4 linked regions of the Homo sapiens genome follow. The protein of the gene in region 2 purifies or fractionates together with the protein of the main gene of each other region. This does not show direct contact. Each region holds a gene or a part of one and is shown on either strand. Other genes may lie near its edges. The genes, in order: HEPHL1, TEX35, RABGAP1 and BORCS5.

What was found.
Region 1: the proteins of TEX35 (region 2) and HEPHL1 purify together in Homo sapiens (affinity purification with mass spectrometry; 3 studies listed by BioGRID and IntAct, with this or other methods). This does not show direct contact.
Region 3: the proteins of TEX35 (region 2) and RABGAP1 purify together in Homo sapiens (affinity purification with mass spectrometry; 3 studies listed by BioGRID and IntAct, with this or other methods). This does not show direct contact.
Region 4: the proteins of TEX35 (region 2) and BORCS5 purify together in Homo sapiens (affinity purification with mass spectrometry; 3 studies listed by BioGRID and IntAct, with this or other methods). This does not show direct contact.

The regions. Positions count from the first base shown.
Region 1 is NC_000011.10:94,107,885-94,115,307, reverse strand, and holds the end of HEPHL1 (ferroxidase HEPHL1 precursor), read right to left. Parts: intron 4,406-7,423; coding exon 4,243-4,405; intron 3,772-4,242; coding exon 3,703-3,771; intron 3,617-3,702; coding exon 3,414-3,616; 3' UTR 1,100-3,413; downstream 1-1,099. UniProt on the Homo sapiens protein: Is a copper-binding glycoprotein with ferroxidase activity. It oxidizes Fe(2+) to Fe(3+) without releasing radical oxygen species. May be involved in the regulation of intracellular iron content.
Region 2 is NC_000001.11:178,508,233-178,516,530, reverse strand, and holds the start of TEX35 (testis-expressed protein 35), read right to left. Parts: upstream 3,423-8,298; 5' UTR 3,343-3,422; coding exon 3,304-3,342; coding exon of another isoform or gene 3,280-3,303; intron 2,505-3,279; coding exon 2,454-2,504; intron 1,832-2,453; coding exon 1,763-1,831; intron 673-1,762; coding exon 616-672; intron 1-615.
Region 3 is NC_000009.12:123,097,545-123,105,612, forward strand, and holds the end of RABGAP1 (rab GTPase-activating protein 1), read left to right. Parts: intron 1-196; coding exon 197-301; intron 302-1,170; coding exon 1,171-1,254; intron 1,255-1,933; coding exon 1,934-2,005; intron 2,006-4,021; coding exon 4,022-4,219; intron 4,220-5,546; coding exon 5,547-5,669; 3' UTR 5,670-7,322; downstream 7,323-8,068. UniProt on the Homo sapiens protein: May act as a GTPase-activating protein of RAB6A. May play a role in microtubule nucleation by centrosome. May participate in a RAB6A-mediated pathway involved in the metaphase-anaphase transition.
Region 4 is NC_000012.12:12,465,078-12,472,801, forward strand, and holds the end of BORCS5 (BLOC-1-related complex subunit 5), read left to right. Parts: intron 1-468; coding exon 469-699; 3' UTR 700-6,156; downstream 6,157-7,724.

The sequences.
Region 1 (7,423 bases), on a different chromosome or scaffold from region 2:
ACCAGGAAAGTGATGAAATTTGGAAAAACGTGAGGCAATGTGTGGACAGTGGTGGAAAGGAGCAGTAGTGATGATGGAGAGGCTGGTTTGGGGACTGCTGCAGTGGCCCTACTCAAGCAGGATTTGTGTGAATCTGCAGCCCAAGGTCAGGGTTAGAGAAATACATTTTGAATTTGTTTGCATAAAAATGGTTTTCCGATCATAAGGATGGATAAAATAAACTATGGAGTGGCTGGTAACACATTACCACAAACTTGTTGGCACACATTTCTTCTCTTACAGTTCTGGACCTCTGAAGTCCAAAATCAGTTTCAAGATATCTGCAAGGCCAACCTCTCTCTGGAGGCTCTAGAGGAAAATCCTTTCCCTTACCTTTCCCAGCTTCTGGAGATGCATTCCTTGCATTCCCTGGCCCATGGCCCTTTCCTCCATCTCCAAAGCCAGCAGCATGGCATCTTGTCTTGGTTGTCATATTGCCTTCTTCTGTAGCCAAATCTCCCACTGCCTCTCTTTCATAAGGACACTCATGATTACATATAGGGCCATTATGGATAATCCAGTATAAATTTCCTATCTTCAAGATCCTTAATCATACCTGCAAAGTCCCTTTTGCCACATAGGGTGACATTCACAGGTTCAGGGATTAGGACATGACATCTTTGGGGCAATATTCAGCCTACCACAGAGGGTAAAAAGCGAAAAAGGACCCAGTGTCAAGTTCTGAGGCATGCTAACATTTAGGTCAGACAGAAGAGAAGGAACTAGAAAAAGAGATTGAGAAGGAATAGTCATTGAGGAAGAAGGAAGGCTGGCAGAGAGTCATGTTGCAGAGCCAAGGGACTAGAGACTCCGAGTGTTCAGAAGGAAGGAGCTGTTTCTTGTTGCTGAGAGGTTGAGTAAGATAAAGATGGAGAAGAAGCCACTGGAAATGGCATCATGATTGGTGATCTCTACCACAGCAGATTGGGGTGTGGGGGCTGGGCACGCTGGATTGAAAGCCATCAGAATGGGCTGAGGAATGCATGGGGTGAGGTAGTACAGGCACCAAGTGTGAATACCTCTATGTTCTGCTATCAAAGGAAGAGAGAAACTGTGTCGGAGGGGGTTATAGAGTTAAATAAGACAGCACATTGCTTTCTGTTTTTAATGGCGGACATTGCTGATGGTTTCATAGAAAGATGCAGGAGGAAAAATGGATACCCAAGGGAATGAAGTCTTGAGAAAGCAAGAAGCAATGAGACCCAAAGTCAAATGAAGAGACTGTCCTGCTAGGAGCAGGGACACGTGTATTGTAATAGGAAGAAATATGTGTGTAAGTGAAGGCAGAGTTGATTTTCTCAAGAGTGAGGCTGAGAACAAGGAGTGTAGTTATGTTTGAGGAAACAATGTTTGAGAAGTCATATTATTTGTGGAGATACACTATTTTGTTTCATTTCCTCTAACAAGTGTCATTGGCATAGTCATAGCCCCTAAATATCTAAAAATTAATTCCACTTTAACCACCTCCCCTAGTTCAGTGATAGATAATTTTAAGTGAAAATAACCATGCAAATAGCCACCTTATGTGACACTTTATTAAAATGATAAATGATGCAATCAAACTACTTTGTGGTTTTGTTTTCATTAAAAAAATAAACTGAAAAGAAAAAAAAACAACTGAACAACTTGTCTTACTAAGGTGGGTAATAAATAAGGCATTTACCATAATTATGAAATTATGCAGCCTACACATGTATGAAAACTGTAGAACATGTACTATGAAATCACATTGTCAATGGTTAGCAGATTGAAATTCAAAATCTTTTGTGTATGCTGTTTGATATGACATTCAAGCAAACTATGAACAGAACTATTAGCATTTGCATCCCCTTTTATGTTAAGACTATAGCTTCTATCCAATTACCCATTTCCCCTCATGAAGATGAAGATGAGACAGTGTGAAAGGTCCCTCCACCAGAATATTTCTTAGGTCCTTGTCACTCACTTTGACATTCAAATTACCCACTGCTAAGGCAGGCATACCAGTATCACTCATCTAGCATTGGCATTGGAATCTCAGGGCATCTCGCCCAGAGCTAAAAGCAATTTCTCAGTCTTGTAATAAACAATGTTACTTTTATCAATCTTACACCTACTGTCTAAGCATAGGTATGGACAGTGTAGATTGCCTCATAATGGGTTGAGTTTAGTTGTTCAATAATTTTTTTGCATTTGAACCTTGGAAATTATTTATTAATTTTCAAAGCTGGTTTAATGGTTTAAGAGAATCTGCCACCAAGATTATCTTTTTCTCACCTTTCCTTTTCCTTTTTTCTCCTTCCATGAAGAGGTATGTCTTTAAAAGCCATAGAATCTAGGATATTTAGAGGTCCCTTCTCCTATCTAGTCACCTACATTGATAAATTCCTCCTGATGTTTCTCATACAATGAGAATGTTATAATTTCATAGAAGATGAGGACTTGTAAAGATTCCCTCTAACTGAATGAAAAATCAGACTCCAAATTCAAGCCCAGACTTGCCTCCTGCAAAGCTTCCCTCCCTGATAGAAAGCTTGCTCTAAACTCTCAGGGAGTCCCTGATTCATAAAGGGAGAGCCTAACATGTTCTTTTACAGATTTCAGCCCTCCCACAGTCTGCAGTAGAAATACAATTTCTCTACTTGATTTTTGAAAGTACAAACATTGCCACAGAAACATATTGTAAAAACATGTAACATGAAGTGAGTTGTAAACATTCAAGTATTTCTACAGGTTTGAATAAAAACAGCAGCAATTTTTTAAAAAACGTATAACTTTGCTTTTTAAAACAAGCACTGCACAGGCTATTTATATCAAAGAGGAAAAGGCCAGGAGAGCTGGTTAAAGCCTCCAAAAAATTTATTTGGTCTAATTCTATCAGCAGACACTGACTTAGACATTGCCAAGAACTCCTAAGAAAGATATTTTCCACAGAACCAAGGGATGCATGTTATGCAACAATGTTGAAAAAGTAGTGCCCTTCCAGTTAAATGTCTGAGGCACTCTAACTTTTTCTAGAAGCTGTTCACCTAGAAACTTTGGTGGTTAGCTAAGAAAGCACTGTTCAAGAATTATAAAAGATGGAATATAAAGATATCTTTCAGAGTGTCTCCTATTCAGTGAATCCAACCAAAGAATAGACTAAGAGTTGACATTCTCAGCCATGCCCATTCTCCTTTTTCTGTGTTTTATACCTGAGGATTATTCGCAGCCCATTTAAAAATAAATAAATAAAAGCAAATTGCTTTGGATGATGTTTGAGAGGATCAGAAGGCTGATCCAGGATACAGTGTCAACCTTCCTTGGTGAGTGATGCCTTGGTCCAGTTTCCCTGTTGGCTGCCATCTGGCCAGCTGTGGGACATCACCCTTTCCTGTTGAGGGAGACCAGATGGTTCACAGAGCATCCGTGGGGAGAGCACAGGACTGGACTTGCTGGTAATCTGTCTGCTTCATTGCAGAGCAGAGTCTGAGGGAGAGAATCACCGTGGTGATTAGAAGGAGGAGTCCAATGATGAAAAGGATGACCAAGGCTGCCTTGGCTCCTGTTGGACCCAGATTCTTGCCAAAGAAATAGAGCTGCTCTTTGCCAGGTCGTTCTGTGAAAAAGATAAACTTGTCAGGCCCCTGACATTTTTGAGGGGTGAAATGTTGACTCATTTACATGGGGAGAGGGTATCATTACCGTTAGATGGCACCGTGGCTGGGTGAGATGCCACTCCAGGAGATGTGGTGGAGTAAGGAATCCTGTTGTCTGCACAAAGAAAACAAGTTCATTGTTTTATTAACAACAGAAGGGGATTCTTTTCATGACACTAGTCATTTCATTTCACCAGCGAGGACTTATCCCATCAGTATCTGCCAATCATTTCTGGATTCTTACTGTGCTACTTCATTCCCATGTACATGCTTTCCTGCCCCAGCTGTCTTTCCCACTTCTGCTCACCCACTGAGTCTATCTGGAGCATCATGGCCTCTGTGAAACTTTGGCTCATATCCTCCAACTGTTACCCATTCACTCCTACTGCTGCTATTAAGCCCTGTACTCTGCATTCTGCTACGGCACATAGCATACTTGATTATAGTTACATATTTACATATATGTCTCTCTTACTTGACTCTGAGCTTGTTGAGGGCTATATCTGGGTTTTTGTCATGCCTCCTGTTTTGGGGGTCTACAGGAAGCTCGGTGCCATCATCTGGCATCACTGACAGACAACCGTACCTATGTTACGAAGGACCGTGTAGGTTGTCTCCATGCCAGCATGGATGTGGTCAGACACATGACAGTGTAGCAGCCATGTCCCTGGGTGATCTGCAAACAGTTCAATGGTTTGGAATGTCCCAGGAAAGAGATCATACACATCTTCTCGGTAAGATTTATCTATCTGCAAAAACGTTTTAAAAAACAACAGCTAGTAGCCTTCTTTGCTCAGAACAGCAAGAACAGAAAGAAGAGCAAAAACAAATAAAACCCACAGTAAGCAAAAGGAAGGACATAAGAAAGAGCAGGAATCAAGAATAGAAGTACAATAGAGATAAGTCAAAGAAATCTAAAACTGATTCTTTGAACAGATCAATAAAATCAATAAATTCTGTAGTAGCCAGCTTCCATGATGGCCCACAATGATCCCCACCTCCTGGTATTCATAACCTTTGTGGTTCCTACCTACATTGTATAAGGGTTGGTATGCGAAATCAATAGCATGTGGAAGAAGTGCTGGCATTCCAATTCCAAGATTAGGTTATCATTACTTCTGTGTTAGATACTCTGTCACCCTCTTCTCTTGGATTACTCACTGGAGGAAGCCAGTTTTCATGTCTTATCCACATGATCAGGAGCTGAACCCTCTAGTTAACAACCATATCAGTAAGTTTGGAAGTGGATCCTCCAGCTCCAGTCAAACCTTTGAAAACTGCAGCTCCAGTCGACATCTTGATTGCCTCCTCATGAAAGATTCTGAATCAACCAACTAGTTAAACTAATCCCAAATTCCTGATCCAAGAATTACTCTAAGTTTAGAGTAATTTGTTATGCAGCAATAGATAACTAATACAAATCTCTGGACAGACTAACCAAGGGAAAAGGGAAAAGGACACATTAAAAATACTGAGAATGAAAGTGAGGACATCACTAAAATCTTACAAATATTAAAAAGGAAATACTGGACAAACACCTCTTATCCAAAAATTGTACAACTTAGATGGTATGAACAAATCCCTTAAAAGACACAAACTCCTGAAGATTACTCAAGAATACATTGATAACCTGGATAGCACTATATCTATTAAAGAAACTGTAATTGCTTCAAGATATTCCAACAAATTAAACTCCAGATGGCTTTATTGGCAAATTCTACCAAACATTTAATGGAGAAATAATACCAATTGTAAACAAACTGTTCTGGAAAATAGAAGAGGAAAGAACAGTTCCAACTCATTTTATGAGGCCAGCATTACTGTGATACCAAAACTAAACAAATGCTTTGTGAGGAAAAAAAGCTACAATCAATACTCCTCATGAACATAGATACCATCATCCATAACAAAATACTAGCAAATCAATTCCACAAAAAGGAATAATACATCATGACCAAGTAAGGTTTATCCTGGGAATGAAAAAGTGTTTAAAAACTCCACAATCAATAAATGTAATTCAGCAACAGATTAAAGAAGAAAAAGCATCTGATCATCTCAATAGATGCAGAAAAACCATTTGATAGAATTTAACATTTGTTGATGATCAAAACTCTGAGCAAATTTAGAAGGAAATTTCCTCAACCTCATAATGGGATCCACAAAAAAGCTGCAGCTAACTTTATATTCAAAGGTGAATGACTAAATGCTCCCCTTGTAAGATTAAGAACAAACTGAGGATGTCCACTTTCACCACTCATATTCAAAATTGCACTACAGGTCCTAGCCATTGCAGTAAGACAAAAGAAATAAAAGACATACAGATTGAAAATAAATGAAGCCATGTCTATTCACAGACAACATGATTGTCTGCATAGAAAATCCCCCTAAAATCTATAGGAAAACTATTGGAACTAAAGTGAGTTTAGCAAAGATGCAGGATGCAAGGTCAACATGCAAATATCAATTATATTTCTAAATATTGGCAATAAACAACTATAAATCAAAATAAAAACACTATCATTTACACTATTACCAAAGCCTTTTATATACTTAGTTATAAATAAATAAAACAAAGTATATGCAAGATCTCTATATTGAAAACTACAAAATGCTGATGAAAGAAATCAAAGAAGAGCTAAACGATAGATATACCATGTTCATGGATTGGAAGCCTCAATATTGTTATGTCAGTTCTGTCCAACCCATTGTATAGCTTCAGTGCAATACCAATCAAAATCCCAACAGGATTTTAAAAATCAAAATCAACAAATTATTTCTAAAATTTATCTGGGAAGGCAAACATCTAGAATAGCTAAAACAATCACCATCTGATTTTGAGACTTACTATAATACTAAAGTAATCAAAACATTGTGGCATTCAAGAAAGGGCAGAGTATAAACCAGTGTAACAGAAGAGACCGCCCAGACATAGACCCACATATATGTGGTCAATATGATTTTCACAAAAGTAAAGAGTCAATTCTGTGGGAAAAAAAGATGATCTTTTCAATGAGTGGTGATGGAACATTTGGACATATATATGAAAAAAAAATGAACCTTATTTCATATCTTGAACCACATATGAAAATTAAAATGTATCAGAGCCCTAAATCTAAAACTATACCACTTCTAAAAGAAAACAGAGACCTTTTTTGGGACCTTCAGTAAGGCCAAAATTTTTTATACATGACACCAAAAGTATGATCTATAAAAGAGAAAAAAGAAAAATTGTACTTCATTTTACTTCATCAAAAATTAAGAACTTCTATTTGAAAGCTGTTAAGAGAATGAAAAGATAAGCCACAAACTGGAAGCAAATATTTGTGAGTCACATCACTGAAAAAGGATTTGTATCCAGAATATATAAAGCCCTCAAACTCTACAATAAGGAAACAAGTAACCCAATTTTTTTAAATGGGCTTACAATTTGGACACTTCACCAAAGATTTACAGATGACAGATGGTAAACAAACACATGAAAAGATGCTCAATATCATTAGCCACTGGGAAAATGTAAATGAAAAACAATGAGATACCACTATATCCCCTCCCCAAGGAGGGAATGCCTAAGGGAAAAAAATGAAATAAAAACTAAAAATACCAACTGCATATGTGGATGTGCAACATATGGAGTTCTCGTATATTTCCTTGGAAATGCAAAATGATACTGCCTTTTTGGAAAACAGTTTGGTGGTTTCTTATGAAATCAAACATACACTTATCACATGGCTTAGCAATCCTACTTCTAGGTATTTTCTCAAGGAAAA
Region 2 (8,298 bases):
AAGGGCAGTGGCTGCTTCTCTGGCATGGACTAATAATGGCCTGTTAGAGCCACTTTCTTCTCAAGGAGTCTGTGAAGGGACTAGGGTGCAAGCACCATCAAGTCACCACCACCATCAGCCTTGGCACGGCTTAGATCTGGCTACTGCAAGACTGCATGTGGAGCTTGAACCACAGCTTCGATTACACTTTCTTGCTCGATTATTCGCTTTTTTCCTAAGGATGCTACAGGTGGTTGGTTGGTTGTATCATAGAAATGAGAGGTTTCCTGCTTTGCAACTTGCTCAGGGGAAGTGAATAAGGAAGATGGGGTTGGTCCCTGACTTCCCCTAAATTCATATTCCAAATCAGCCCCTCTTACTCAGCTTCATCACTAAGGTGACATCACCCACCCTTACCAAAGAGACACTTTAGGGAGTCCTCAGTCACTCAAAAATTGGGTTTAGGCATCAAACAAGTAAGAAGTGAATAACCTAATACTGAAGTGCTCTGGGTATTAGGACTGAGTTACATTTTTCCATGCAATTCCTGCTTTCCTTCACTATTCAAACTTAAGGATTGCATTTTTCCTGAAGCTACACTTTCCCTCCATGATATGGAAGGCCTCATCTTCTTACCTGTTTTATCTCCTCCATTTTCTCCTTGAGCTCTTCTCTCACTTCCCTGAGTTCATTCTGAGGAAATAAAATGGAGAAGAGAAGGAGGAAAGAAATATCTAGGATGGAGGGGAAACCATCAACAGGAGGAAAGGAAAGATCCTGGGACACTGTCAGAGAAAAGCTTTCAATAGGGAGGAAAGAAAAGATGTTGTTGAGACAATAGGATAGACCAGGTGCACTGGCTCACACCTGTAATCCCAGCACTTTGGGAGGCCAAGGCGGGAGGATCACTTGAAACAAGGAGTTTGAAACCAGCCTGGGCAACATAGCGAGACCCCCACCCCCATCTCAAAATTAATTAATTAATTAATGTTTTAAAAAGACTATAAGATAGTGGGACCTACAGGCATCATGTGTCTCTGCCAAAAAATGCACAGCCTGAATCTCATCATGAGGAATCCAACAGACAAAGCCAAATTGAGGGTTATCCCACAACATAAGTGATCTGTAATCTGTAAAAATGTCAATGTCCCCAGACGAGGTGCAGTGGCTCAAACCTGTAATCCCAGCACTTCAGGAGGCCAAGGCAGACAGATCAGCTGAGGTCAGGAGTTCAAAACCAATATGGTGAAACCCTGTGTCTACTAAAAATACAAAAATTAGCTGGGCATGGTGGTGCACGCCTATAGTCCCAGATACTCGGGAGGCTGAGGCAGGAGAATTGCTTGAACTTGGGAGTTGGAGGTTGCAGTGAGCCTAGATCATGCCACTGCACTCCAGCCTGGGCGACAGAGGGAGACCTTGTCTCAAAAAATAAAATAAAAATAAATAAATGTCAGTGTACCCAAAGAAAAAGAACTGTTCTGTTCCAGATTATAGAAAAGACACCTGGTAATTCGAGGCAATGTGTGATCCTGGATCAGACCCTAGACCAGAAAACGTCCCCTTTCTGTTGTTATGCAACACATGTGTGGGACAACTGGTGAAATTAGAACAAGGGCTATAGATGAGTATTGTCTGTGTGTTAACTTCTGGATTTTGATAATTGCACTGTGCCTATGTAAGAGGATATTCTTGTATTTAGGAAACAGGCACTGAGGATTTGGGGAAAACTTACACTCACGTGGTTTGGAATATAGACATGCCTCCAAGTTCACGCACTCACCTTTAGGTCCTGTGTCACTCCTGCTTTGGTAAACCGCCCTTCTTGTTTAACTGCTTTGTAATCAAATGTCTGTGGATTGAAACAGGAACACAGACCTTTGGGAATTGCAGATGGGCGGTGGAAGTGCAGAGGCAGAAGAGATCCCCCTGTGTTTCTGTTCCTCCCTTAGGGCTAAGGCAAGAGGAAAGCTGGTGGCCCCACCTGTGCAGAAGGTTCCTCTATCCTCCTCCCTCTTTCAGCTCATCTTGTTCCACTCCCCTGCTGGCCCACGGGGCCTCAGCTCCTTTTGTCCCTTGAACAGCCAGGCTCATTCCCACCTTGGGCCTCAGTGCATGCTGCCTCCTCTGCCTAGAAGGCTCTTACTCTGCCTTTGCAAAGCCAGAGTCTTGTCCTTCAGCTCTCAGCTCAAAGGAAGGCCTTTCCCTACCACCCACTCCACGGCAGCCACTCAGACATGTCTCCCTGTCTTGATTCCCAGCAGAGCAGGTAACACTGCTGAATGAGTCCTTGTTCGTTTATGTATCTGATTGGTTACAGTGTGAAGTTCTATGAGAGCAAGAACTCTCAGTGCATCCCCCAGCACCTGGGACAAATCTTGGCCACTAGGATCAGCAAATGACCCCTGACTCCTGGTCACTTCCCCATGGATCTCAGGCCTGGCTGCCTGCATGGCCTCAAAAGGGCTTCTTACTTTGGTCGGCTCTGGCTTCAATTCCAGGCAAACTGCCTTGTAGTTCTTGCTCTGCAAAAAGAGGAGACTGAGATTCAGGCTGGCAGACATCAGGATTGGGGAGGAGAACATCTGGCCCTTGCACGGGAACCCTGCCCCCTGCCCCCCACAACCATGCAACCCTGCCTGTCCAACTGGCTTGAGCTCAGGCTCACAGACCCCGCAGCACCCGGATCCGATTCCTAACAAATCACATCTTGTCGTGCTGTCCTCTTCCTATGGGCGTGTGTCTGCCTATTTGGCAGGCAGCCCTCTCCCTGCTGGAGGCGCCAGCGTGGAGAAAGCACTTTAAGATAACTAGAAGCAAGCCCCGGAAGTGTTGTTTCCAGAGCAAGGGCTTTGGCCATAGGCAGATTTGCACTATAGTCTCAGCTGACCTCTCTACTATCTCTGTTATTTTGGGTGAGTTGCTTAGCCTCTCTGAGCCCCCATTTCCTCATCTATAAAATCGACGTGATGATTATATTTATCTAATAAGGTTATTCTGAGCCTTAGCCCTGCTGGTTAGATGTGGGCCTGGCAGGCCTGGCATGGGCCGTGGAACCATGAGTGGTCTTGGAGTAGGGAGTGCTCCCTTGGCAGTGCTCCTCATCCCCAGAGGGAGGCAGCAGAGGCCTCTTTCCTTCCCACCCCCAAGGCTAGGGATTAATCCCACACCCCTTCCAGACTGAGAGGCTGCTTTATGCTCAGTACAGAGAAAGAAAAACCAGAGATTCATGCGAGCATTCTCTGTATCCCTTGCCCCGACACCATCTCCATTCAGTAGGAGCTCAGAGAGGACCCACACTGTCCAGCAATGTCTCTCTTTTACCAGATGTGTTTTCTTCAATTCTGCCCTCTTGGCCGACATGATGGAGGAGGCCAGGGTGTTCTTCAACTCCCCACAACAGCCCCTGGGACCAGGCCACTGTCCTAGGCAACTTACAGGTCAAGGTGAGGGCAGGGTGACCACCCCTTTGTGTACGGAACAGCTGAGGTCACAATGCCAGGACCCACATGGTGGTCCAGAGCGTCACCACAGCTTCAGGCCTGGGGGGCTTCGGCCACTGAGATGAGGGGTTCAGGCCAGGTTTCAGAGTCCCACCAGGCCTCCCTCTTGCAACAGAAGGAAAGTCCACACTGAGGAGGATCATGGCCTGCTACGGTCGAAGTGCAAGGCACGCGTCAGAAGCAGTGGCTCCTTCTGCAGCAGGACTCACCTACTGACTCAGAAGGACGTCCTCCAGGGACAGCCAGCTCCTCCTCTGAGCGCACAGCCCATGTCCTCTGCTGTGCGCTCCTCGCGCGAACCGACCCCACCTCGGACCGGAAGCCACCTTGGGCTGGAGGATGCCATGAAGTCTCTCTGGTTCAACGTGCATGCACCGTCTCACTTAACCTGGGTTACTCTGTATGAGGTGGGGTAGCCAGTCTCAGCAGGATGGTTTCTGATGCCTCTGACCTCACACTGCCCCTGTCCCACAACCACCCCCAGACCCCTGCCCACCTAAAAATTCTCTTTTCCTAGTTCTTCTATCATCCGGGAAGAGGGTTGGGACAAGAAGCTAAAGATAAGAAGCTTTTCGGGCAAATGAAGAATACTAAAGAAAAGGCCATTCTGCGGGTAGCCATAGTTTGTGCTAAAGTAGACAGTCAGAGGAACATGGCACCCCATGGGATAAAAAATCACTGGGGATCTGGGTTGGTGAAATTGATTTCTCTTTTCCTCTTATCACTGGTCATTCACTTCCTTCTTCCCTCTCATTTCAACTGCTAGTTGCACAGAAAAGGCCAACATGGACATCTGAGGACAGACAGCACAGGAGTACAGGAACTAATGCAAATTGCATGTGAATGACATCCCCATGCAGGCCACTACTGACCACACTTACCCTCCCATTTCACACACCTGCTTGGGACTATCCTTCCTGGAGGCCACTGGAACTTCTGGAGCCACCTGCAGCACTTCTGATGCATTTCCTAGGTGGTGATTTCCCAGCCCTGACACTGGTGACAGCTGTGGGTCTTACTCCACCATAGCCAGAGGAGAATGTGTCTGCCACTGCATCAGCGGAAGGAGAGGGAGTTGGGGGTGGTCACCAGCTTCCCAGGCTTCACTTTCCCCACTTATAAATGAGGGGCTGGAACTTTTCAGTTTCCTTGGACCTTTTAATTCAGCCCTCTCAGATCTGATGGCCTCGTGGTAGGAATGCCCTTCCTCTAAGGGAATTACAGTGAAAATGACTGACTCCATCTCAACATCCACCAGCCCCGTGAAAATGTGCCCCACCTCCTTCTGCTAATTTTGGCTTGGGGGCCTCCTGGACCTGCAGTAGAGCTTCCCTTGCTTGGCTGAGCAGTTGTTAAATGAGCTGCCTTCTAGCCAAGCATAGCACATGAGCCCACTGGCCTATCTATTAGGAAAGAAGGTCTAAGAGAAATCAGGGTCTCAATGCAAAGCTGCATTATAAAGTAAAAAATTATCTATGTATATATACACAAGTACACATGGTATTATCATTTGGGCAGAATTTTAACTACAGAGCCACAGCTCTGGGCTTGTGCCTTCTCACAGCGTTTACTATTCATGTTCTCAAACATTGTACACCATTGTTTTATCGATATATTCTGGCGGGGCTGGGGGAATCCACGTGGCGAACCTGAATACTGATTATTTATTTATGAAGAGACAGGATCTTGCTCTTTCTCCCAGGCTGGAGTGCAGTGGTATGATCATGGATCATTGCAGTCTCGAACCCCTGGACTCAAGCAATTCTCCTGCCTCAGCATCCTGTGTAGCTGGGACCACAGGCATGCGCCACCCCACTCCCAGCTAATTTTTAAAATTTTTTTGTGGAGACAAGGTCTCACTATGTTGCTCAGGCTGATCTCCAACTCCTGAGCTCAAGGGATCCTCCCACCTCGGCCTCCCAGAGTGCTAGGATTGCAAGCATGAGCCACCATGCCCAGTCTGAATAATGATTCTCATATTCTTTTAAGAAGCTTTTGCACCTGCAAGAGAAACGAGGTTGAAGCAGTGTTGCAGTGTTGGTATTGCTGTGGTGTGACTTTGTTCTAGGTAAGCCATAGGACGTTCTTACTTGAAGAACGCCAGACACGCTTTTCCTAATCCCCCTTCAGGGCAAAACCCCTCTGTACCAGGGCAAGCAGCATAGAGCCCACTGCTGCTCCATCGGAGTTTGGGGGAAAAGGAATATTCACAACAGACAGAAAGAAGCAGCCACCTGTCTCTGTTCTCCAAGTTGATATCATTTGGGTTTCATTTTCTTTACAAGGGTCCTGCTTTTTTTTTTTCAGTTTTAAGGATACAGTGTTGTGAGGGGAGGCTGGGGTCGGGGGGAATTTTAAAATGGTTTTAAGCCTCTGAGTTTGGCATTTTGTGATTCTGGGTCTGGCCCATGATGAGGTCCAGGCTCAGCCACTCCCTGCGTCAAGGCCCAGAGAACATGAAGAGAACATCATGCGTGCTGAGGGGCCTATTCGACCACTGGGGGCCCAATGTTCTAAAGTCCTTTGATTAGGGTGGAACATTTCACAAAGACCCAGAATCCCACAGGCTTTGCTGTCCAGTCAAACTCAAACAGACACGGCTCAATACATGTGACCTAGACGACTCACACTTAGGATGCCCTGGCTGTTTACATCCCAACAGGCTGCAGTATCTGGGTGGCTGCCCTCAGCCAGAGACGATCTTACATGAGATCCTCTTACATGACATTTTTAGAGATCTCATATGATTGATTCCTGTGTCATCCTACTTGACTGATTTATAGACACCTTGGAAAGCTTTACTCCGAGCAGAGTAGAAATAGCTTTTATCATTGGCACACTGATTACTATGCAATTTCTGATCATTTTTATCATAGTGTATCAGACCTTGGCTGGAATCATAATCCTATTATGTTGTTTCTTTGGAAAATTTATATCCAGTTTTTATCATATGAACTTCCTGGTACCTCTATTTCAGCAACAAAACATAACAGTCTGAACAGATCATTGTAAATCTCTGGCTATTTCAATACAGCCAATGACAAGTGAAAAGTCTGAGCAAATGTATTGTGGAAGGATCTTCTCTGTAAGTTCACCATGACAGGCCTATGCTTGCCAGGGCCTTCTGAGACCCAGGGGAAACTGCTACTCTTCCCACAACCAACCATCACAGGGCACCTACCATGTGAGATAAAGACAACACCGCCAGCCAGCAGAGGCTCTCCCTGCTCCTGCCAAACAGGGCTCCTGAGGCCTCCTTACTTAGCCAGTTCCCTTTACCCTCTTTGGATGGAACCCAAATAGAGTACAGTGATGATTTCACGCCTGTCTCTCTCAGCTTCCCTGCCGGAAGGTGCTCTGCAGTTGAGATTCCCTCCCCTAATAGCCTCCTGTCCACCTCTGACAGCTTCAAATTCCCATCCATCACTGAAACAATCAAACTGAGTGGCACAGTAGCCTCTTGGGGCTGGCCTTGCTGGGGGACTATGCTTCACACAGGGTCCATGGAGAGTGGAACGTCTCAGATGGGAGGGTTTCTTGGGTTAGTCCTGGGAATAGCCCTCGTCTCTCCCACTCACATTCCTTTGGCTGGAATATAATCACAAGGCCATATCTCACTGCAAAAGAGGCTGGGAAATATGGCCAGGTTTCTCCCAAGAATAAGAGGAGACAGGCTTATGGGGCAGGCAGCTAATCTCCGCTATACTTTCCTGACACATTTCATCTTCCTTATTCTACTCTAACAAGTCTCCTCATAAGAAAACTTGATTTCGAGTTCTTCCACACTTAGGGTAAAAGGGAGGTAGCTTACAAGGTCCAAAATCCATGAAGTCAGTAGCTGGGTTTGGTGGTGCACGCCTGTGGTCCCAGCTACTTTAGAGGCTGAGGTGGAAGGATTGCTTGAGCCCAGGAGGCCAAGGCTGCAGTGAGCTAGGATCACACCACTGCACTCCAGTCTGGGCAACAGAATGAGACCCTGTCTAATTAAAAAACAAAAAACAAAAAAGAAGAGGAAACCTACACTGGACACTCAAACAGAATGAAATCTCCTAGCAAATGTGAACTGGAAGAGTTAGGATTAGGGTTAGGGACTCACCTCTGTGTCACCTGAATGGCCAGTGGGCTGGAGCATTGAGACAGAGACTGGAATAATGATCTGGTTTGTCCAGGGCTTTCCCGTGCAATAGTTCCAGTCTGTCCCAGTCCCAGTCTAACCCAGTCTCATTCTGTGGAAGGCCCTGCAAACCTCCCTCCCCACCACAGGCTTCTGCCCTTCTGCAGCACAGAATGTGGGTCTGGTCTACACTTCTCTTGCTGTTCTAAGCCCTCTGAGTAGCACTAGGGCCCAACCAAGTTGCCTCAGCTTTGCCAGCCCCTTCCTGAGGGGTGGGCCCTGCTGCTGTCTTCTTGGCTGAGAATCCATAACCTTCTTCAGCTGAACCTTTGTGTCCAGCCCCATGAAGCCACCTGAACTTGATTCCTGCCTGGAGATGCCAAATGCTAGGCCCCACCCACCGAACATGGCAATGACTCAGATTGAGCCAAGTTTTTCAGAACCCGGAGATACTGACTGCTGGTTGGCATCCAGTGGGGTCAGCCTGGCCATTGACTCTTTTACATCTGGTTTACCTCCTTCCCTTGAACGTTCTGCCCCCGAGGTCATTAGGACCTCAGAGCTGAGTCCATGTGAACATTGGCCCAGAAAGTTTGAATCCTCTTCTCTTGGTAGGGGTTTGGGCCTAGGCTGGAGACAGAGCATTTCTCTCTCTCTCTCTTTTTTTTTCCTTTTTTTAATTTAAGACAGAGTTTCACTCTT
Region 3 (8,068 bases), on a different chromosome or scaffold from region 2:
CCCTGCACTACCTCTGAGCAAGAGACTGGGACAGGCACTTATGCATGAGTGTATTCTCATTGTGACCCTGGGGATATAATTTCCCCTCTCTGAATCAGAGTTTCCCCATCATCTTAAAATGGGATTATGCTAAGTAATGGAAATCCTTTGCAGTTCCCAATTCTTGTTTTGTGACAGCATATCTTAAATGTTTCAGGCTGAGGAAAAGGCAGATGCTCTGAATAAGGAGCTGCTGATGACCAAACAGAAGTTGATTGATGCAGAAGAAGAGAAAAGACGGCTGGAAGAAGAGTCTGCTCAGGTAAGGGAACTCTCCCACATTCCTCTGTCTTGCAAATGCTTGAGAACTGGGAGTTCAGCTGGTGGCTTCCTGTTGGCACTAGAAAACCTAGAGACATCTGGCTTCAGTTTCTTTCCAAAGACTTTTTTTTTCCCCCTACTGTGTAAAGTCCAATGGTTCCTAATTAAAGTCTAGGAGGAGACAGTGGGTTGAAGCCCATCCTTTGTTGGGGCAGGAGAATTTCTGTGTATCAGCATCTGAGCATAACAAAGAAGAGGGGGTAGAATTCCTGCAGAAGGAAAGCACACATCATATAATGCCTGGCTGTTTCCCTACTTGTCCTCTGCTGTCTCCCTCATAGAGCAAGCTTGGGAAGTCTTGTTCTGAGCCAGTGCTCCATAGTCATTGGAGACACAGACCTGCAGGCATGGGAAGAGCTCTGGGTGCTGTGCGCCTGGGAGCAGTCCCCTCCCCTGTCACACCACGGTCGTCCAGGAGGCAGGACTGGCTGGGGTGAGAGACTGCAAAGCCCTTTCTACAGAAACCATGAGATGCTGAAAACCCGCAGTCCTCTTATGAGCTCTTTGGTTTGTGTCTGGTCTGTCAGTGAAGGTCCACAGGTTGGCTTGTACTGGCAGGGAAGACCTTCAGCAGAAGCCTCAATCTGAAATGGGGTCTGACGTTTTTGGAAGTTTTAACTGTTCTCTCCCTCTCCTGCATCAGGAACAGGGGATTAGTGCTGCCAAGATTGAAGGAAGAAAGTAGCTGAATTAGAGGACTTCCAGGGTTTGGTTCAGCAGTTTTTGGGAAGCCTAGCACTAAGCGGTTGGTGGCAGAACTTCCTTTATTTTTCTGTTAACATAGTCCCTTTTGTTTTTTTATGTGTGCAGTTAAAAGAAATGTGCCGTCGGGAACTCGACAAGGCAGAATCTGAGATTAAAAAAAACAGTTCTATCATTGGTGACTATAAGCAGGTAGGTTCCAGTACCCTGGGATTGGGCTGTGTAATCTGGGAGCCCCTAGTCTGGATAAAATGTATACCCGCCCCCCACCCCCAAACCCAAATGCAAGCACCCTGGTTTCAGATCCTGGCTCTGCCCCTGCACTGACAAGTGGCTTCACTTATTCTCAGTTGTAAAAGAAGGAAAATCATCCCTGCCTAGGAAGGTTGTTACGAGGATTTAAAAAGACCATGTTTGTAGAGTGCCTGGCAGTGCCCAGCACATAGTAGGTACTTAAAACCACAGTATGTTTTGGTATGTATTTCAGATTCAGAATTACGAACTTTTGTTTACGTGTAGTTTTAAACCGGTTATTTCCCTGACTGGTTGAGTTTTAAGAACATAACAGAATGGTCTTGTTCCCTCCTACACTAGGATCTCTTGCTGGCTCATGAGTCTGGCAGGTGTTCAGAAACCATTGGCCATTGAGTGTGGTGCTGCTTGGTTTCTGCAAGTCCTAGGCCAGTGAATGCAGAGGCGGCATAGCTAGAAGAACCCCTGCTTATCCATCGACTTCATATCCCCTCCTGAGCGGTAGCAGGCTATTTGCTACTATGTTAATTCCAATTTACATATTCCAGCTTCCACTATGGAATTTATGCAGATGATTACAATTGCTCAAGAGATTGTTGTTTTATATTTGTTTCTTTAGATTTGTTCTCAGTTGAGTGAAAGATTGGAGAAGCAGCAGACAGCCAATAAGGTGGAAATTGAGAAAATTCGGGTAAGACTTCTCTTTACCTAAAAGATTTTATACCACCTACTTCATTTTATGGCTGTATAAACAGGTTTTGGGAGGAGGCAGTTGATTTCAAAAGTGAGAGAATCTAAGCAATAAGGCACCTGTCACAGGTCCTGGCTCAGTAGTTGACAACTAACACTACGCCTGTTTTCTCTGGAAGGGTGTACAGATGAAATCAAACAAGCTCTAGCTTTAGATCTCAAAGTGCAAGTGCCCCATGATTTCCAAATGTCTGTAAGGCAGTCGATGTCCGCAGTGTGATGCTGAGGAGAAGGAGTCATGCAAGTGATAGGTCTTGCTTGAGGTGGTGGGAGTGCAGAGGTCAGAATCATGTGCTGTGGCTTGTCACTTTCCAGTGTTGTTCTGAGTTCATGCCTTCTGCTGTAACACATCCAATTACAATGAGGACCTTAGTTTATTTTTATTTTTTTTTATTTTTAGAGACAGGGTCTCACTATGTTGCCCAGGCTGGCCTTGAAATCCTGGGCTCAAGCGAAATCCCTCCCTCAGCCTGAGCTGCTGGACTCCAGGTGGGCACCATTGCGCCCAGTTTAGAACTTTAATTGTTTAATGTTTTGTTGGCAGCTTAGGAGTTTTTATAACATGGTGCTTTCTTTCTTTAAGTTCTACCTGTATTACAGAACTTGTCAGATTTTACTAAGATAAGCAATTTACTGAAAAGTGCCTCACTAACATATTTACAGCTCAGAGGACAGGAACTTGGGAAAGTTCTGTGCTCATGGCTATGTTTGCGCAAAGCAACATTACCTAGAGCAGGATGACACTGGCCTTCGTCATAATTAATGTTTAACCAGATGTGTGTGTGTGTGTGTGTGTGTGTGTGTGTGTGTGTGTGTGTGTGTGTGTGTGTTTGAGACAGAGTCTTGCTCTGTCATCCAGGCTAGAGTGCAGTGGCGCCATCTCGGCTCACTGCAACCTCCGCCTCCCAGGTTCAAGCTATTCTCCTTCCTCGCCTCCCAGCTAGCTGGGATTACAGGCTTGTGCCACCGTGCCAGCTAATTTTTCGATTTTTAGTAGAGGTAGGGTTTCACCATCTTGGCCAGGCTGGTCTCGAACTCCTGAGCTCGTGATCCACCCGCCTTGGCCTCCCAAAGTGCTGGGATTACAGCTGTGAGCCACTGCGCCTGGCCAACCAGATCTGGTTTTTAAACAGAACTTATTTTCTGATTCTAAAACTTTAATATTCTTGCAGAAAATTTGGAAAAGAAGAGTAAATAAGGGAAAAAAGCCCTTATGATCCATTTTCCACATATAACATCTTTATTAATACTGTGGTGTGTATTCTTTCAGTCTTTGTTCAGTGTTTAACGTCTAAAATTTCATTCATTCTGAGATAAGCATTTCTTTTCACATTTACATCTCTGAAAGTCGGATGTTTTATAATTGGCTTTTTGTGGTTTAATTGGCAGAATGTTTTCTTAGAGGAACATAAAATGACATTTCTTACAGTTAATGGCATCTTATTTTGATGAAATGTGGAATACATTTTATTTGTAATCATAGTTTATGTACATTTTTGTGTTCTATTTCAACCAGCATGCATCCATTTTCCAATGTTATAAAAGTTCCTCAAAAACCTTTTAGAGGCTGTGTACTTCCTTGTATAAATATAGCACAGTATATTTAATATTTAATTGTTTTTGAATAGTTTATCCCCTGCTTTTTTGCCTGTCTCCAGTTCTACAGTGAAAATTTTTGTACATAAATTTTTATCTAGTTACAGCTTCATTTTTCAGCCTGGGTTCCTAGAAGTGAGATTACTGAATCAAGACAATGATAATTTTATTATTTTTGGTGTATAATACCAAGTGGCTTTTCCAGTAGGTTATCTGCCAGTTTACAAAGAGCACAGGTTTTCAGAAACTGTAGTGCTCAACAGAGAAGCCGTCTCTTGGTGTCCCCCAAAGGAGATGCTCACACCATCCTAAAGGGCCAGTTCCTCTTCTTTGCCTCTTCACATCTAACATTCAATTTCAGCAAAAAGTGGATGACTGTGAGCGGTGCCGGGAATTTTTCAACAAAGAAGGGCGTGTAAAAGGCATAAGCTCAACCAAGGAGGTTTTAGATGAGGACACGGATGAAGAGAAAGAGACGCTCAAGAACCAGCTGAGAGAAATGGAGCTAGAACTGGCACAGACCAAACTCCAGCTGGTGGAGGCCGAGTGTAAGATACAGGTAACAGCAGCAGAGCTCAGACATGTGCCTGCGGGCTGGGTTTCCTGATGTGCACTAGAGACCCCAGAAATTATCTTTATGGTTTGGGGTTTTTCCACACCTTTTAAACTTTGGTCACAGTTGTCATGAGAAGAAATATAGGACTTGTTACTGGCCAGTGGATGTCTCATCAGTATTTGGCCTGTCTTGAGGATTTCCGCTGTCATATTGAGAATAATACACAAAAGCTTGGAATCTTTTGATGGGATGAGAAGACAGTGCTTTAGAAACACAGCTCTACCACTGAACTGTTTGACCTTGGGTTAGTAACCTCCCTACATCTCAGGTTCCTTATCTACAAATGGAAATGATGAGAGTCCCTATCTGATAGGTTGGTTTGAGGACTAAGTAAGATAGTGTGCACAAATGGCTTGGCAGAATGTCGGGGGCTTTATAAATGCAAGCTTTTGTTCTTCCAGTTCCCACCACTTAACTAGCTTTGTGACTGTTAATATACTACCTATCTGAGCCTCCTTTCCTGATAAAGAAGTTAGGGCTTGTTTTGGTCATCTTAATACACATTGCTAGGTCCACCAGCACCACTAAACCCTAAGCACTGTTTATGGAGGGAACAAGTTCAGGATAAAAGCTTTAGGGCTGATTCTCCCTCATGGCACACATTCACTGGGCATCTGCTCTTTGGCAGGCCCTGTTATAGGTCTGGGACTGCAAAGCTAAGGCCTGGTAGTGTGACTACCCGGAATAATCAGGAAAGGCATCACCAAGGCAGCAGTAGCTGTGCTGTGATCAAAGAATGCACAGGGCTTGTAGCTACAGGAGAGAGAGAACAGTGGCAATTCCAGGCAGAGGGAGTGGCATGTTCAGCAGCACAAGGAGGAGAGTGGCTGCCCAGGAAGGACCCTCAGGAGTTCTTTCCTTGCAGTAGGGGATGGAGGTGGTGCTAAGGCTGGAAGAGAGTGTGTGGATCCAGATTGCGAAGCATTTCAAATGCCATGCTAGGGAGTTTAAAGATTTTTGCCAAAATGAAATGATGTCACCAGAAATAGAGCATTACCTGTCTGCCTGGTGTGCATTAGGTGGACAGAAGAGGGAGACATAGCAAGTAGAAGACTGTTTTAATAAATAGACCAGGCAAGAAATTAGATCTTAACTAAAAGCTCCCAAATCTTTAGGCATTTCAGGCATTTCTATGCCAGTTGGAGACTGGGGGAATTCCCCGAGGCCTCTCCAGAGTAAATAGACTGCATTCTTGTCTTGGTTCTCCTCTGGGGAGCCAGTGTCATTGACACCAAGCCCAGCATCCTCATGCACACTGTTCCTCTTGCAGGACTTGGAACACCATTTAGGGCTTGCCCTCAATGAGGTGCAGGCAGCCAAGAAGACGTGGTTTAACCGAACACTGAGCTCCATAAAGACAGCAACCGGGGTTCAAGGGAAAGAGACTTGCTGAGAGCAGCTGCCGCCTCCCGACACCTTCAGAAAACACGACACCTTTTGTTGCCTTCTTTGGCCAGATGTGTGATTCTGTGACTTGTCCCAGGACCAGAATGTACCTAAGTCAGATCCATAGACGCATGTTGGTAGGTCACTGGACCAGAGCTTGTGAAGCAGGCAACCTCTGGGGTAAGACTACTGATACTAACAGGCCTGCTAGCTCAGCCGACGCTCTGGACACTCTAGAAATCACTCCTCAGTGTGACCTCCCAGGCCTCTTCCCCGTGTACGTCAACACCTCACCCAGCCTAAAGGCTGAGTTTACATGATCAGAGTTAGGGGATCCTTCAGTCTGTTGATTTTTTTTCTAAACCTTTTTTTTTTAATATACATATATATATATATATATATATATATATATATATATATATATATATATAGTGGGGGTGGGGCAAGGGATCAGAAATTCAAATAATTCTTTTCTGCTTCAATGCCAGCAGAAGGTCCCCCAGGTAGACATGGAGAAGCACTTTGTTTTAAATAGGAGGGTTTCATAGTTGCATCTGAAGCCACCTGGTTCTGTTAAACTGTATGGTGCAGGTTTTGGGTTTGGCATTATTCATGTTTCTGATCAATTCTATGCAACTCTCATAGTTCCTGTTACTTTTTAGCATTAGCTGCCAAATGACTTCAAAAGGCTGGGGTGGGTGACTTGACTGTGAGACTGGATTATAACATGGACAAATCTTATTTTGCTTAATGTGTTTGTGTGTGTGTGTGTGTGTGTGTGTGTGTGTGTATGTATATATATATATAAATATCTTTCCCAATATGCCCCGTTGACAGTGTTTAAATTCCAGACTAGGACTGCTGATCTGCACAATTTAATTATGTGGTTATTCGAGCACTTAATTTCACTCAAGGTTCATTGGGCTCTGCTCTCCTCCCTGCCATTACGGGAGCTGTGGACAGAGCTCCCTCACTTCAAGATTCCTAGTGTTTTTGCACAACAGGTTGTCCAAGTGAGAAAGACTGAGTTGCGTGTCTGTAAATGTCTGCGCAGGGTGCACATGCTGCGAGGTCTCCATCCTCCGGGCCTGTCCCTCCCAGATGGGCTGGGCCTTTGGGCCCTCCTCAGAGTATGCCTGGGTACAAACCTCACTGTTCAGATGGGCTGTAAGTTCTCACTTCAAAGCTATGGAATGGATTTTAGCACCTTTAAAAAAAAAAAAAACTTTGACTTTTAATTTATATAGTGATATGCTGACAGGCTGACACGCAGATGGTTTTGTCCTCTTTTCTGCGTTCAGTGTTGAGGCGGCTGCTTACAAGAGGCACTGGTTTTGTATATAAAGACACTCGGGTTGTTTTGTAGCTCTTTTTCTTATTGGCTGTACTAACGCTTGCTGAGGTTATCTGTAATAAGGGAGGTAACAAGTGGCAACCCCCTCCCCACCAACCATCCCCTTTGCTGCTTTCTGTGTCTTTCTTGTTCAGTTACCAAAATAGCTGTAAGCCTATCTAATGCTAGGTGTGTGGACATTGTGCTAAGGTAGTTTCAGTGTGTCAACTTTATGAATTGAAATATAAACCAGTAAAATTGTATTACTGTTTCTTTTGTTGGTTTTATTTTAACAGCATATTGATTAAATATTTTGGTACAAACAAACAGCATTGCTTTGTAAAAACCAGTTTTGTCATCACCTACTCCTGTCGCCTCCCCTTCTTCCCTCATCCCCTGCGCACAGAAGCAGTCAGAGAAGACCACTGTGTGTGCTGTAAGAGAGGCATGTGTGAGCGCGAGGCAGCCCCTCACCCACCTGTTGAGACGTATGGAGTGGTAGGGTGTGGCAGGCCACATGGGGCAAGATGACGACGTTGATGCCTCTGTGTTTGTTTATGATGAACATTGCCCCTCTGAGAAATAACATGCTGTAGTAGCAGGGATGAGGGACACTTGGTGTTTTTGAGGCTTAAGGAAGCCTTACAGGAGGTAAGGGTCAAATTAGACCTTCAAAGGCAAAAGCATCTCACCAGGCAGAGATGGAAGAGGGAATTCCAGGGCCAAAGTGTGCATGTGCAGGGGAAACAGCTGAAGAGTAGAAAGGCAGGCTGAGCACCTGGGGGCCGGCTGTGGTCTGCTAAAAGCTTTAAAAGCAGTGACATGGAGTTGTCATCATCTTTTCAGAGCCTCTTTCTTCCTATCGCCTGTCCTCCACATCCCTGCACCATACAGATGAGGCTCCCAGGCCTTCTGCTGCCCCTCTTCACCACCTCAACCCCCTTCTCCATAGCAGGAAGAAGAACGAAGCTTCCCTAATCTTACGGTTCCCCCTTCCCGCTTGACCTGCCCTCTAGGACCCCACCTATGCCTAGCCTTTAAATGGATGCAGGCTGAACAGACCATAGCTTCAT
Region 4 (7,724 bases), on a different chromosome or scaffold from region 2:
CCTCCCACCTCAGCCTCCCAAGTAGCTGGGATTACACGCACACACCACCACGCCCATCTGCTCCTAGTTTTTTTCTAGATAAGCAACCTGAGACACAAAGGATAAGCATTAGCAGCTCATACACGTGACAGAGCCAGATTCAGCCTTGGCCTGACTGATTTCCACATCCAGAATTCCCCTCATATAGGGAGATAGAAATCTCAGGATCTCAACAAGGTACAAATAACGCACATTCCCAGAACATAGAGCCAGGGACAGTCCCCTCTCAGTTCTCTTCTAAAGGTGGTTCTGGCACAACAGTTGATAAAGCTGTGTCCCTGAAGGGCTTTTTAGCCCTGGGTGCTTCCTGTAAAACTTGTCAGCTTCCACTGGATCTGCGGGACTGTGTCCCTCACAGGCTGGACACCCGGCCCTGCGGAGAGGACTTGATTAAACAAGGTATAATGTACTTCTCTTTCCCATCCACAGATGGATCTGTCTGTAGAAACTCTGTTCAGCTTCATGCAGGAGCGCCAGAAAAGATACGCCAAGTATGCCGAGCAGATCCAGAAAGTGAACGAGATGTCCGCCATCCTCCGCCGCATACAGATGGGCATCGACCAGACTGTGCCCCTGCTGGACAGGCTCAACAGCATGCTGCCCGAGGGCGAGCGGCTGGAGCCCTTCAGCATGAAGCCCGACCGCGAGCTCAGGCTGTAGCTGCTGCCCGGCCTGCCTGGGGCTGGGAGCCCCAGACACCGACACCCTGAGGACGTGTGGAGCTAAGGTCATATCATCTGACCAGGTCTGGAGGCTGGCGGGAGGCTCCCTGAAAGTGGGTGCGAAGGAGTCCGGCTGGCATGAAAATCTGACTTTGCCCAGCTCTTTTCCTTGATGCAGTTTCCCGGTGTGGAAGGAACCTAACCAGTTCTCGGTGATAACTGAAGCTGGAACGTGTGAATTATTAGGAATTCTTTGAAGAACTCTGCATTGAGAATTATTTTTATTTAGTTTTTTTTTTTTTTTAATTGAGAGTATATAGTCCAGTCCAGGTACCGGAATAAAAATATGGAGACAAGGGGAAAATATTTTACGAAGCTCTGTGTTCTCAACGCCCTCATGAACTTTTCAGTAGGCTGTCTGGTTTATGTGTGGTCAACTTGAAAAACTAATTGAATCTAGGTCTCTGTATTGTTCCTGTTTCTACCCTGACTGTTTCCGTCACACCAAGCCCTTATCTGGGGCGCGTCTTCCTGCCCAGGTGGAACACTGGCATTTTGTTGACTGTCAGGTTAGGTGTCCCTTAGTCGTCATCAGAAGCTGAAGCCTTCCTTTCCACACCCTCATCAGATTCATCTCCACTGATAACCGGTTTCCTTGATGCAGACATAGTTTAGCTTTCTTTGACTGCAGAGATGTCTCATTCCACAGACATTTCTTGAACCCATTTGATGTGTCCAATATTGTGCCAGGGATACAAATATGGCCGTATAGCCTCAGGCCTTCATTTCTGAAAAGAAAAAAGCTCAAAAAGCTGCTGAATTTCTCTGGGAGTTTAGGAAAGGAAGTTATTTGAGTAACAACAAAAGTGCTTAGTGTCGTACTTTACACATCATAGGTGTTCTAATGGAAGCAAGGACTGGAGAAGCAAAGAGTGGAATGTGAGGAGCAGACCTAGGCAGACACCTTGAGACTAAAAGTCAGAGCTGAAGGGAGTCGCTGGGGCCAGGACGGCATGCAGGCCTGTACCCTGTTCCCTAAGTTCCTGCAAGCGTCGGGAGGTGTGTTTTCAGATACCAGAAAGAGCCTTCAGTAGATTCACAAGATTAAAATTGATGCGCTTAATTTAATGTATCTTGGCTAAACTTGATCTGATTCTAATCTTGGTTTGAGACAGGGTCTTGTGCTGTTGCTCAGGCTGGAGTGCAGTGGCGCAATCATAGCACACTGACTCCTCAAACTCCCGGGCTCCGGGGATCCTCACGCCTCAGACTCCTGAGTAGCTGGGATTACAGGTGTGTGCCACCAAATCCAGCTAATTAAAAAAAATTAATTAATTTTACATTTTCAAATTCAAAAGAATAATACAATGAATATTCATATTTCTTTCACCTAGATTGACAAAAAGTGGTATATTTAAGACATCACCATCATTGTCTTTCTTCTGGAGTATACAGAACCTGGTTCTGAACACAGGGATATGTTTGTAGCTTCGAGGAATGAAGGGCTGTTTACAGAGCTACAAAAATAGCTTAGGTGCCATTATCCTCACTGCACTTAATACAGGTGACACATGAAAGCACAGAGTGGGTGGCAGTTCAAGCCTGCGAGGGCCGAGCCTTTCCACTGCTGCAGCTGTTAGTGGCTGGCACAGGGCAGGATGGCAGACCTAGTGCAGCACAAACAAACCACGCAGTCAGCCAGCTCTCCAGCCAACTGTGTCTACTTCTAAAGTAGAAGTTAGACAAAACATGGGGTTCACTTAGACTGGGGTCCTGAGTAGGTGATAGGCTACTTATTACTGGGTGGAAGCGGAGAAGTATGGCAGAAGAACAATAGGCAAATTCAATACTCCCGGAAAGAATTCTAGTTAGTTTAATATTTTGATGGCATGTTGTGGTTTCTGCAGTGTCGTGAACTTGGCTAAACTGAACTGTGTTCCCAGAATTCCCTTCCTTGTTTGTTTCTCTGGTGAGGGTTGGCCACGAGAGAGATTTGCATGAGGTTTGGAAGTGGAAGTAGAGCAACAGCCATGTGTATTCACTGGAAGTGGATGTAGGTCAGGCCCTGTTCCATCACGTGCACGTTACCATGGATCTCCTGCACTTGTGGTGTGGGCAGCCGCTGGGCCCACGGCTCCTCCCACTCCCGCAGAACTCTGCCTTTGGCTTTTCCAGACCCTGGGCCGGGTATGAGAACCAGCTTCTTGGTCTGCAGCCACAAGGATGAAGGTTTGGGGATGAGAGACCAGCACGGGCTCTGATGAGAGACAGGTGCAGGTCCCAGCTTGTGGCTTGCAGGTCTCAGTCGTACTTGCTCTCCCTCACCATCCTTTCCAACCGCCTGGCCTGTGGTCTGGTGAAGAAGAAACAGCCGAACCGAGACTTTCACCAGCCCCTCTAATTGCTCAAACCGCTTTCACAATCCTCTCTTTCTACATCATTCCTAGTGGTTCTTTTCTGATGGAACCTCTGACTGGTAACATGGCATTACCAGTCCTTTCCCTCTCATGTTTTGCTATTTCCTGATGGAACCTGGGAGTCTGAGTGATTTGTATTTCAAGAAGCAGTTATGCTGGATCTCTTTGTTGGTTAATACCCCATGACCTATCTGGCCGTTATGGGATATTTCAGGGATAGGAGTTGTGAAAGAGCCCTTGGCTGGACGTTTCTAGCCTTAATCTTTGGCAAGCCATTTCATTTCCCTGAGCCTCAGTTTCCGCCTTCCTACAGCGTGAGCAGGTCTGGGTGGGCTCTCAAGCCCCTTTCAGCTCTAAGATTCCAAGTCTGTGATTCCGATACATCTTGACTACAATGAGCGTGTTTACCTTTTGTCTCTGAGCAGTGGCCCTGGGTCTTGGTAGTGACTAAATTCCGAGCTCCCAAGGTGCAGCTGCTTTTCTTCCTTTTAATTATAAATTAGCTGTTCATTGGCTGCTTCTTTCTAGAGCCTGTTTTGCTTATCTTGCAATCTGTTCATTTCTGTTGATGAACACAGTCAAATAGGCCTCTATGTGCAGTCTCCTGGTTTCCCTGGTCAAAGTGGAAGGTTGGTAGAAACTGGCCTTCATGTCTTTGTTTCCCTCAAAGTTTTATTCTTAGTAACGCTATATATGGTTTTATAGACCACACATATATAGTTTCCTGTGTCTTAGATGATAACATCCTTAAAATATGAAATATATTTTGAACCTAGATACCTACCCAGTATTCTCTGCACAGAGTAAACATTTCATTAAATGAGTTTCAAGGACTCCATACCCTGATATAGGAGTACATTCAAGAAATGAGTTTAGGCCGGGCGCGGTGGCTCACACCTGTAATCCCAGCACTTTGGGAGGCCGAGACGAGTGGATCACCTGAGGTCAGGAGTTCCAGACCAGCCTGACCAACATGGTGAAACCCCATCTCTACTAAAAAAAATACAGAAATTACCCGGGCATGGTGGCTGGTGCCTGTAATCCCCGCTACTTGGGAGGCCAAGGTGGGAGAATCGCTTGAACCTGGGAGGCGGAGGTTGCAGTGAGCCAAGTTCGTGCCATTGCACTCTGGCCTGGGTAACAAGAGTGAAACTCCGTTTAGAAATGAGTTTAGTCTGGGAGAATCTGCTTTTTGAGTAAAAAAGTTTGATTTTATGTATGTGTGCGTCTGTATATATGTTTCTGTATCCTGAGTATTTCTTTGCGGCTTCTTCAGTTATGAAAGAGGTTGGTACTGTTACCCTTACGTTATAGGTATTACAAACTCGGTTTTACAAGGTTACATAAACTAATGGCCCTGGGGCGAATGACGTATGCCACTTTTGTGTTGATTTGTAGAACTTACTTAGCTTTGGCATTTCCCCTAGTAATTCCCAAGGCAAAACCAGGAATTGTCAGAGACGTGACCAGACATGTATTAAAATTCTAGTGCAATTGGGAAACTTGGTCTTCCTGATTTGTTTATACTTCAGCCAAACCCAGATATATAGTGCTCAGCAGAAATTATTCAAAATGTTGATACTCAAGATTGAAGGATGGATTAGGGAGAAATGAAAACTTTTCTTCTTGTGGACTTTTTAGGTATGAAATTTAATCACGAGAGTAGTTTTGCTTTTCTTTCCCTGACCTTTCGCTTCATTCCTTTGTTAAGAACTATATAGTGCCTCTGAGGAGGTGGCATTATTGTTCACTAACTTACCATAAATCAGGGGTCTCCAAACCCCAGGCCACAGACTGGTACCCATCTGTGGCGTGTGAGGAAGTGTGCTGCACAGCAGGAGGTGAGCGGCGGATGAGCAGGTGAAGCTTCACGTGTTGTTGTTGTTGTTTATTGAGATGGAGTCTCGCTCTGTTGCCCAGGCTGGAGTGCAGTGGCACGATCTCGGCTCACTGCAACCTCCGCCTCCCGGGTTCAAGCAGTTATACTGTCTCAGCCTCCCGAGTAGCTGGGACTACAGGTGCCCGCCACCACACCCGGCTAATTTTTTATTTTTAGTAGAGATGGGGTTTCACCATGTTGGCCAGGCAGGTCTCAAACTCCTGACCTCGTGATCTGCCCGACTTGGCCTCCCAAAGTACTGGGATTACAGGCGTGAGCCACTGCACCTGGCCAGCTTCGTGTGTATTTATAGCTGCTCCCCATCACTCACATCACTGCCTGAGCTCCACCTCCTGTCAGAACAGACCCAGCATTAGACTCCCCTAAGAGCGTGAACCCTATTGTGAACTGCGCACGTGAAGGATCTAGGTTTTGCGCTCCTTATGAGAATCTAATGCCTGATGATCTGAGATGGAACGGTTTCATCCAGAAACCATCCCCCTGCTTCCCTGTCTGTAGAAAAATTGTCTTCTATGAAATGGGTCCCTGGTGCCAGAAAGGTTGGGGACTGCTGTCATAAATAACATTGAATTTCATGTGGGTTTTTTTTTTTTGACACACCAGGCATGTCTCTTCCATTCAAATGCTATGGCTACAGAGGGAAAGGGTAGCCAGATAATTATCCACATGCTTCAAACCAAAAAGATAAAAAAGTTGGCAACTAGATCTAGTTGCCTGCCAGGATGACCAGCGTTATGCTGGTGTGTGCGTGTCCATGCCTCCGGGATTTTTCCAGGGTTATCAATGTCAGTGTAAGATCTGATGGAATTTACCGTTGACTCAATTTTCTTCACCAATCAAGGCTCATTCCTTGAGGCATGAGTTATGCGAAAAGCTTTTCTGCACCAAGTACTTTCATTCTGGTCTTTGGAATTGTCATAATTCTGACAGAGAACACAGACCATTACTGAATGCTCTTCAGGTTACCCTATTTGCCTGTCACATTGCTTCTACCGGCCACATCCTGCATTTCCTGTGGGACAGCATTTTCAAACGGATTCTAGTGTTTGAGCTGGAACCAAAAGAATGAAACTGTTTTTACATAAGTGCATATTGCTGTCTCTGCAAATAAAGTACAACAATATGACTGACTTGTAAATATCTTCCAGGACAATGCTGTGATTTTCCAGTTGATTCTGCAACTTTAAAGATATAACCAAGTATAATTAGGCCGTTCAAGGATGAATGGGTCCCACAGAAGCTAGAAATAGTTTACTTCCTGCTTCCATTTCTAGATGCAGAAGACTAATATTCACAGAAAAATTACGTAGACAAATTTTGTTTACTAGATCTAAAACATTCCTGCTTCTCAGAAAAACAAAACCAAAGGAGTATTTAAGATAAAGTAACAGTGAACGTGTTGAGACTAAAAAGTTTCCATCAACTAGTCCCATATGCACCCTCTACCCTTCACATAATCTCTTTGGACACTCGGCTCCAATTTTGTCTTATTTTTCTTCACATCTCAATCTACACCTTCCTAATATGTCCGGAATTGGTGGATTCTTGGTTTCACTGACTTCAAGAATGAAGTCGCGGACCCTCACAGTGAGTGTTACAGTTCTTAAAGGCAGCGTGTCCGGAGTTTGTTCCTTCTGATGTTCGGATGTGTTTGGAGTTTCTTCCTTCTGGTGGGTTCGTGGTGTCGCTGGCTCAGGAGTGAAGCTGCAGACCTTCGCGGTGAGTGTTACAGCTCTTAAGGCAGCGCGTCCAGAGTTGTTCATTCCTCCCAGTGGGCTCGTGGTCTCGCTGGCTTCAGGAGTAAAGCTGCAGACCTTTGCGGTGAGTGTTACAGCTCATAAAAGCAGTGTGGACCCAAAGAGTGAGCAGTAGCAAGATTTATTGCAAAGAGCGAAAGAACAAAGCTTCCACAGTGTGGAAGGGGACCCGAGCGGGTTGCCACCGCTGGCTCGGGCAGCCTGCTTTTATTCTCTTATCTGGCCCCACCCACATCCTGCTGATTGGTAGAGCCGAGTGGTCTGTTTTGACAGGGCACTGATTTGTGTGTTTACAATCCCTGAGCTAGACACAAATGTTCTCCAAGGCCCCACCAGAGTAGCTAGATACAGAGGGTTGATTGGTGCATTCACGAACCTTGAGCTAGACACAGGGTGCTGATTGGTGTGTTTACAAACCTTGAGCTAGATACAGAGTGCCGATTGGTGTATTTACAATCCCTGAGCTAGACATAAAGGTTCTCCAAGTCCCCACCAGACTCAGGAGCCCAGCTGGCTTCACCCAGTGGATCCTGCACCAGAGCTGCAGGTGGAGCTACCTGCCAGTCCCACGCCCTGTGCCCACACTCCTCAGCCCTTGGCTGGTTGATGGGACTGGGCGCTGTGGAGCAGGGGGCGGCGCTCGGGGAGGCTCAGGCCGCACAGGAGCCCACGGAGTTCGGGGAGGCTCAGGCATGGCGGGCTGCAGGTCCTGAGCCCTGCCCTGTGGGAAGGCAGCTAAGGCCCTGTGAGAAATTGAGCACAGCAGCTGCTGGCCCGGGTGCTAAAAGCCCCTCACTGCTCGGGCGGTGGGGCCAGCTGGCTGCTCCGAGCGCAGGGTCCGCTGAGCCCACGCCCACCTGGAACTCGCACTGGCCTGCAAGCACCGTGCGCAGCCCCGGTTCCCGCCCATGCCTCTCCCTCCACACCTCTCCCTCCACACCTCCCGGCA